Linked DNA regions of Homo sapiens. The protein of the gene in region 1 purifies or fractionates together with the protein of each later gene. This does not show direct contact. Each region holds a gene or a part of one and is shown in the gene's direction. Other genes may lie near its edges. The genes, in order: TMEM65 and COX15.

Region 1 (3,824 bases):
CATATTCGACAAGAATTATATCTTAAAGTGATGCAGCCAAAAGCTCTAGGGGAAAGAAACTTGAGGAAACCTCTTTTCAGTTTTGTAAATAATTGATGAGTAATGCATTATTTCTACGTAAAATACAGGGCGTTTTTTTCCCTCCACAAATATCATTGAGATTTGAAGCATTTTTTAGAAATGTTCAAGCATCAGTATTCAAGAGAACTCTTGAAAATTAAGTCTTCTAATGGCAGCATTGCTCAGGGATTAGAATTGAATTAGCACAATAGATCCTAGGATTTCTTCTTTATTCTGTTAGAATAGTTTAATTGTCTTCACTTCAGTTCCTCCTCTTTAAAATGAAAGTAAAATATGAGCCCCTCTTTTCTTCAGAGGAATGATGATATACATATAGAAAGTCTTAAACTCTGTCATTAAATTCAGTGGCGATACGATGGGGCTTTGTTTTGAGTGTAGATCTATTGTACTAAATGCCGTTGCTGCTTATAAATTGAATGTATAGTTTCACTACTTAATGGTTCAAGAGCTAAGTGTTATAAGGATAATTTTATAAACCCCAATTTCCCTAGAAACTGGTTTAGTCTCCTTTTAATCTTTTGATAGAGTAAATAACAATAGTATAGATGTATAGTTCAGAATTTAAAATCAATGTGAGTCGGTCTTGTTTTCAAAGAGCTTTAAAGCATTTTTCTCTGTGGTAGAAAAATAGAAATTCTAGATTTTTAATGATGAACTATATTTCTACATGTGTTGCTAATTTTATTTTTAGAAGCCTAATTTGAATGAATAAAATGTTATTGATGTTATTTCTGTATGAATGCATATATTTAATAATTTAATGAATTACTATATTATATGTGCATATATGATGTATGTAATTTTGCAGCACTAACATGTTGATTTAACTTGTATCTGTTTTTATTAATGCTTTGCTATTCTTTTATAGTCACTTCAGCTTTAATTTTTAAGATTAATTTTTTATCATATTTCAGGGAACCCATATTGAAATGTCTATTGGAATTATTTTGGGAATTTCAACTATGGCAGGTATTTAACAGTAGTAAATGTTATTATTTCATTGTACACTTATAAAACATTTCAGTAGATTAAGTTTAGAGGAGGGTAATTTATTTGAATGAGTTTACTCATTGAGATATCTGTTAATTTTCTTCATCCTATTCTTCTGATTCTTAGTTTTGTACATGTAGCACTTTTTCTGAAAATTTTAGGTACTTTATATTATTAGTTATTGGATAACAATACTCTGCTATATTGATTTCGTTAAGACAAGATTTTCTGGCAATTCAGTGTTACCCCTAAACATTTCTACCCTTGGTCTCTTTTATTTATTTATTTATTTATTTATTTATTTAGAGACGGGGTCTCACTCTGTCACCCAGGCTGCAGTTCAGTGGTGCAATCTCAGCTCACTGCAACCTCCACCTCCAGGTTCAAGGGATTCTCCTATCTCAGCCTCATGAGTAGCTGGGACTACTGGCGCCTGCCATCATTCCTGGCTAATTTTTGTATTTTTAGTAGAGACGGGGTTTCACCATGTTGGCCAGGATGGTCTTGAATGCCTGACCTCGTGATCTGCCCGCCTCGGCCTCCCAAAGTGCTAGGATTACAGATGTGAGCCACCACGCCCAGCCTATTATTTATTTTTTATTTATTTATTTTTGAGTTGGGTAGAATTTTTTTTTTCTTGAGTTGGGTAGAAAAATCAAAGAAGGAAATACAGGATTAAACATCTGTCTTCTCTGTCCCATTTACCACTCTATTCTTCACAGAGGTAAAATTTGGGAAGAGTTCTATGTTGTATTTATTGTAGAAAGCATTAGGTAAATGAGTTAATGAAAGAAACATATTTTTCTCCTTGACTTTCTTGAATTTCATAGCTGTACATGCAACTTTACCAATTCCTTTAAATATTATATGAAAGATACTACAAAATATTCTACAATTAATATTGAAACCAAAATGGAAATTGGCTGCCATAACAAAAAAACCTACTACTTAATGGAGGTAGAATAGCATAATTTCAAAATTGTGTTCTATTTCAAAACCTTGAGAGTAAGAGCTGTCCAATGAGTTACTTTGGATATGGTTGCTGTTGTTTGAGAAATATGAGAACTCTTCCAAGATCAGTGCTTTATTGATTACATAGTGATATAATTATTATTCTTTTATGTAACAATTATTTATTTTTCAAATTTTTAGCTGCTGCTTTGGGAAATCTTGTGTCAGATCTAGCTGGACTTGGGTAGGTTCATTCACTTATTCATTTGTATATTCTGTACTTGCTGTCTTTCTGTTCCCCACTCTTCTTTAATTGAGAAGCATAACAAAAGAATATTTCATTTTTCTTTGTTTTCTAGAATTAAAATTTCAAATTTACTTTTTCTAAACTAATAGTACTAAATCTTTGGTATCCATCAAATATAGATGCCTGGGTGATATCCCAGTTATACATTATTAGTGTCTCTGGAGAGGGAGCCCTGGCAGTTGTGTTTAGTAATTTTCATGAGTGGTTCTGATGTATGCAAAAGTTTATTCTAAATTTACCATAATGTAAGCAAAATGGAATTTGTGTTTACTGAAGTATTTATATGTATTTTATAGACATCTCCAAGGGTAAGACAGGAGTAAAAGGAAGAACCTCTCTCATTATTCCACCTCACCCTACTCCCAGAAAACCCAAAGAGAAGGGATATGGCTCGAATTTGAGGATACTGACTAGACATGTTTTCTAGAGGGGGGAACTTTCAAAGGAAATAATGGCCAAAGCATATATGGGTTTGGCTGTTTTTTGCTCTCTTTACTTTATGTGGCAGGAATAATGAAACAAACTAAGGACATCTATTTAGAAAAGGCCAGCTTTCTCTCTCTCTTTACATTCTTGTTCCAAGTAGCAGATGGCCTGAGTTGCTTCCTGAGCTTGGGGAAGCCTGGGGGAGTATAAATTAGACTAAGTGGACATTATTATGATAAATATGCTCTGTCTTGCTCTGTCTTTGATTTTGTCTCTTCTTTCCTTGACTCATTTGAGTGTTACAATTTCAGATTTGAATTTTTTCTTAGAAGTTTACTTAGCCCTATAATCTAGGCAAAGCAGCTTTTTAAGTGATCTAACCTTAACCTTTTATATTAGACTTCTGCACTGGAGTTTGGGGCCAAAGCCACAGTTAAAAACAAAGTTTCTTTGTTTTAGGACCATGGCAAGAATTTTATATTCTTCGAATTCCTGGCATAAATGTATCATGATATCATCTCTTAAACATTCTATTCCCAGTTTCCAACATTAAAGTAAATAATGAGAATATTACAGTCATTGTATAGCTTTCTGATATATTTAATAGAACCAAATGATCTAAGAGATTTTAAAGCCATTTAGCTATATATTGCATCATAAAACAATTGTTTTTGTTTAGAGATGAAGATTTTTCTGGAAGTCTTTGTATTTAAAAACTATTTCTCTTCTCTCTTTTGGGGGGTATCATTCAATAACAAATACCACATTTTAGGCATTCTCAGATGCATTTTAACGTATCTGATATCAGGATCCATCTTATTGTTGGTAGTATACATAGTTTAATTAGCAATATTTTTTCTTTCTTACAGTTCATAAAGTAAGGATGTATCCAATAAATGATGGCAACTTAGAATTGATAAAATACTTGAGATTGGCCTGACAGTTCTAAGGTGTTTTTGTTAGTTTACCAATCTGAGGAATTTTGGAAACTTTTGCTGTCTGATAAGTTACTAATTTGTATCATATGTTAAAGTGCTTTGCTTTGAGTTTGGAATAATTGCAGAAATTC
Region 2 (3,824 bases), on another chromosome or scaffold:
CGGCTGACTGCAACCTCCGTCTCCTGAGTTCAAGCGATTCTCCTGCCTCAGCCTCCCAAGTAGCTGGGACTAGGCGCGTGCCACCATATCTGGCTAATTTTTTGTATTTTTAGTAGAGACAGGGTTTCACCATGTTGGCCAGGCTGATCCAAACTCCTCACCTCAGGTGATCTGCCCACCTCGGCCTCCCAAAGTGCCAGGATTACAGGCATGAGCCACCATGCCCAGCTGGAGAAAGGAATTTTACAGAGCATCTAGTCTAGCTCCCTCATTGTATAGATGGAGAAACCGAGGCCTTAAAGAAGGAACATGTCTGATGGCTTGCCCTGCCATAGAACAGTTGAGTGTTTTATTAGTAGGAGCCTTCTATAAAGACTGGTTTATGTCTTAACTGGTACCTGTGCATTGTTTATGTATCTTTTCTCTTTCAATCAGAGTCCAAGTTTGTCTCAAAACTTTTTTTACAGTTTGTTTGAATTAAACCCAAAGAAGTTCTGTACATCACAATTGGTTCATGTTTCTTAGGTTTGTTTAAATCTATCAAGAGACTATAGATTTAGACACTCCTCCCTTTCCCCCTCTTCTAGTTGCTGAGGAAACTCTAGTCATTTGTCCTATGGTTATGCACAGTTTAGATTTTGCTGACTGCATAACTGTGTGATATTTAACATGTTCCTTTGTCCCGTCTATTTCCTGTGAATGAGTAGTTGGTTGATCAGATTCAAATTAGGGATGAGGGAGCAAAATACTTCAGTAGGTGAATAGAACATTCGTGAATATCTGGTGTCTATTATAGATGTTAACAGCCATTAATTACCATTGCCTAGATCCATTATTTCATTAGCGTAGCAAAATTATAATATTTTATTAGCTCAACTCTAAAAAGCTTTCCCTCATCATCAGTTTGGATATCCCAAGGTATAGTTTGTATAGGAAAGGCAGGATACATACTTGATTCTTCTTTCCCTTTATTTACCAATTTTCAAAATAATAAATTGGTCCCCCAAATCCTCCAAAGGCAACAAATAAAGGATTTGAATTTTTAAGGCTCATTATGAGATCATAGGTTCAAACACACTCGATAATGTTTCGGTCCGTTGTGATGATGGTGTTAGTGATTTGCTCAGATTGTCCCATCTTTAGTCAGTGGGCATCTCCTGAAATTGGCTCTAGTGACTTTTTGGCAGGGCCCTAATTACCTTTGATAGTTTCCTTACTTTCTAGTATGACAAGATGTTCCGAGCTCATCTTGTGCATTTCTTGCCTCAGGCCTAAAATCAGGCTTTTACTCTAGGAATCCTAATTCCTTTTGGTAAAAAAGTTTCTAGTTTTAATCAAATGTGTCTTCCTCAAATTCTCTTCACATTCCACGTCCCTTATTTCAAAATACCTTATGTGTTATATAGGTTGTTATGAGCAAGTGAAACAAATTTGAATTTTATTGTCTTTAAATTCACCCAAGAATCTAAACCTGTATACATGTAACAGGTCTCTTTTCCCTGGGTAAGGAATGTTGGTTATGCATTTAGAACACATTTCTTTGGCTGTAGGGGTTGATTTTACCTGTTGAGGAATGCTAGTGAAAGGAAGAATTGGGAAAAAAAAAAGAATTGGGGAGAGTTGAATAAAAGGATTGAGAGAATATAAGGGTAAATAAATTTGTACCTGATGGCAGCTGTTTCTGACAAAATTCCAAGCAGTAACAGAGAAATGTCTCAAAAGAGGAAACAAGGAAACAATGTGTTTACCTTTAACAAGGTTAAGTTCAGATCCACTTGTTGCTATAAACCTTTTGTGAGTAATCCAGCCTCACGCATACACCCCAAAATTTCTTTCCTATCCTAAGGTTGACAGAGTCTGGCCTCTCGATGGTAGATTGGCATTTAATAAAGGAGATGAAGCCACCTACAAGCCAAGAGGAATGGGAAGCAGAATTCCAAAGATACCAGCAATTTCCAGAATTTAAAATGTAAGTATTAGAGAAAATTAGGTAAACATCCCAGTAGGCCCATTTGATCTTTTGGACTTAAACCCTTCAGAATGGTTAGATTATTTCATGAACTTCGGTTCAGTTATGTTTAGTCAGCTTGTCTTCTAAGCCCCCAAATCCAAAGTCATCCTGAGGTCGTTGATGAGGAAGAGGGCAGACCTACCAAGTTGCAGGACTGAGAAAGAAAGGTTTTGCATTCCGTAAGAAAATAAAAATCAGAAGGATGTTTCCTCCTCCTCCTTTTTTGACTTTCCATTTCACCCAGCTTGAATCATGATATGACACTGACAGAATTCAAGTTCATCTGGTACATGGAGTACTCACACCGAATGTGGGGTCGCCTTGTAGGCCTTGTGTACATCCTGCCTGCTGCCTACTTTTGGAGAAAGGGCTGGCTCAGCCGTGGCATGAAAGGACGTGTTCTTGCCCTCTGTGGCCTCGTCTGCTTCCAGGTAAGATTTATTCAAGGTTGAGAAACCAGAAATGCTCCCAGGAGCTTCCTAGTTGGCATTGTTTTTTTTTTTTTTTTTTTGAGACGGAGTCTCGCTGTGTCGCCCAGGCTGGAGTGCAGTGGCGCGTGATCTCGGCTCACTGCAAGCTCCGCCTCCCAGGTTCATACCATTCTCCTGCCTCAGCCTCTCGGTAGCTGGGACTGCAGGCACCTGCCACTATGCCTGGCTAATTTTTTGTATTTTTAGTAGAGACGGGGTTTCACCATGTTAGCCAGGATGGTCTCGATCTCCTGACCTCGTGATCTGCCTGCCTTGGCCTCCCAAAGTGCTGGGATTACAGGTGTGAGCCACTGCGCCCGGCCCCTAGTTGGCATTCTTTTTAAGGAAATAATCTCTGAGGCACTTTAATAGAATAGGTAAGAGCATGCATTTTAGTGTCACAGGCCTAGCTTCAAGCCCCAGCTCTGACACTTAGGGTAAATTACCTAACCTCTGAAAGCTATGATTTCTTTACCTGTAAATGGGGATAATAACAGTGCCACCATGTACAGTCGTGTAAATATTAAATGAGATAATCCATATTTAAAGTACTTAGCTTAGTGCCTGGAATCAGTAAAGCACTCAGTAGTATATTTTCATGTGCTGCAAGATGTAGTTTGTTTCCCATCATGGGTGTCTCCCTAGGTTCTTGTCTCTCCTCTTTTTCTAACTTGTCTGCTATAGGAAAGAGGGATCCCTGTGCTAGAATGCCACAGAAGCATACAGGAAAATTCCAAAAGAGAGAAACACTTTGTGGGATGAAGGATTGTAGAATACCCATGTAGCTGAGAGATATTCAGATATAAATGGCAATTAAAATCACGTAAGTTGAGCGCCTCTTAAGGAAAGACTCCCACAGTTAACAGGTTAGTACTGCTAGAATGATGAAAAAAAAAAAGTTGGGTGAAACTGAGCAACAAATTAAAAGAGAAGACACATAGGAGTATTTGGGTCAAGGTTTAGAGATCCTAAAGGAGATTATCAGGGCATCAAAGAAACATCAAAATTTAATCAGGAGGAAGCTAATTGGTTAATTTAACTCAGAAGTGGTAAGAAAATGAGTCAGTTAGAAGGGATTAAGGCCGGGTGCAGTGGCTCACACCTGTAATCCCAACACTTTCGGAAGCCAAGGTGGGGGATCAGGAGTTCCAGACCAGCCTGGCCAACATGGTAAAACCCTGTCTCTACCTAAAATACCAAAATTAGCTGGGCATGCTGGCGTGGGCCTGTAGTCCCAGCTATTTCGGAGGCTGAGGCAGAAGAATTGATTGAACCGGGGAGGCGGAGGTTGCAGCGAGCTGAGAGGTTGCACCACTGCACTCCAGCCTGGGCAACAGAGCAAG

Evidence for each region.
Region 2: the proteins of TMEM65 (region 1) and COX15 fractionate together in Homo sapiens (co-fractionation; one large-scale study listed by IntAct). This does not show direct contact.

What each region holds. Positions count from the first base shown.
Region 1 is NC_000008.11:124,320,547-124,324,370, reverse strand, and holds part of TMEM65 (transmembrane protein 65), read left to right. Parts: intron 1-995; coding exon 996-1,050; intron 1,051-2,223; coding exon 2,224-2,266; intron 2,267-3,824. UniProt on the Homo sapiens protein: Essential for maintaining proper cardiac intercalated disk (ICD) structure and function as well as cardiac conduction velocity in the heart.
Region 2 is NC_000010.11:99,725,586-99,729,409, reverse strand, and holds part of COX15 (heme A synthase COX15), read left to right. Parts: intron 1-1,846; coding exon 1,847-1,969; intron 1,970-2,255; coding exon 2,256-2,442; intron 2,443-3,824. UniProt on the Homo sapiens protein: Catalyzes the second reaction in the biosynthesis of heme A, a prosthetic group of mitochondrial cytochrome c oxidase (CcO). Heme A is synthesized from heme B by two sequential enzymatic reactions catalyzed by heme O synthase (HOS) and heme A synthase (HAS).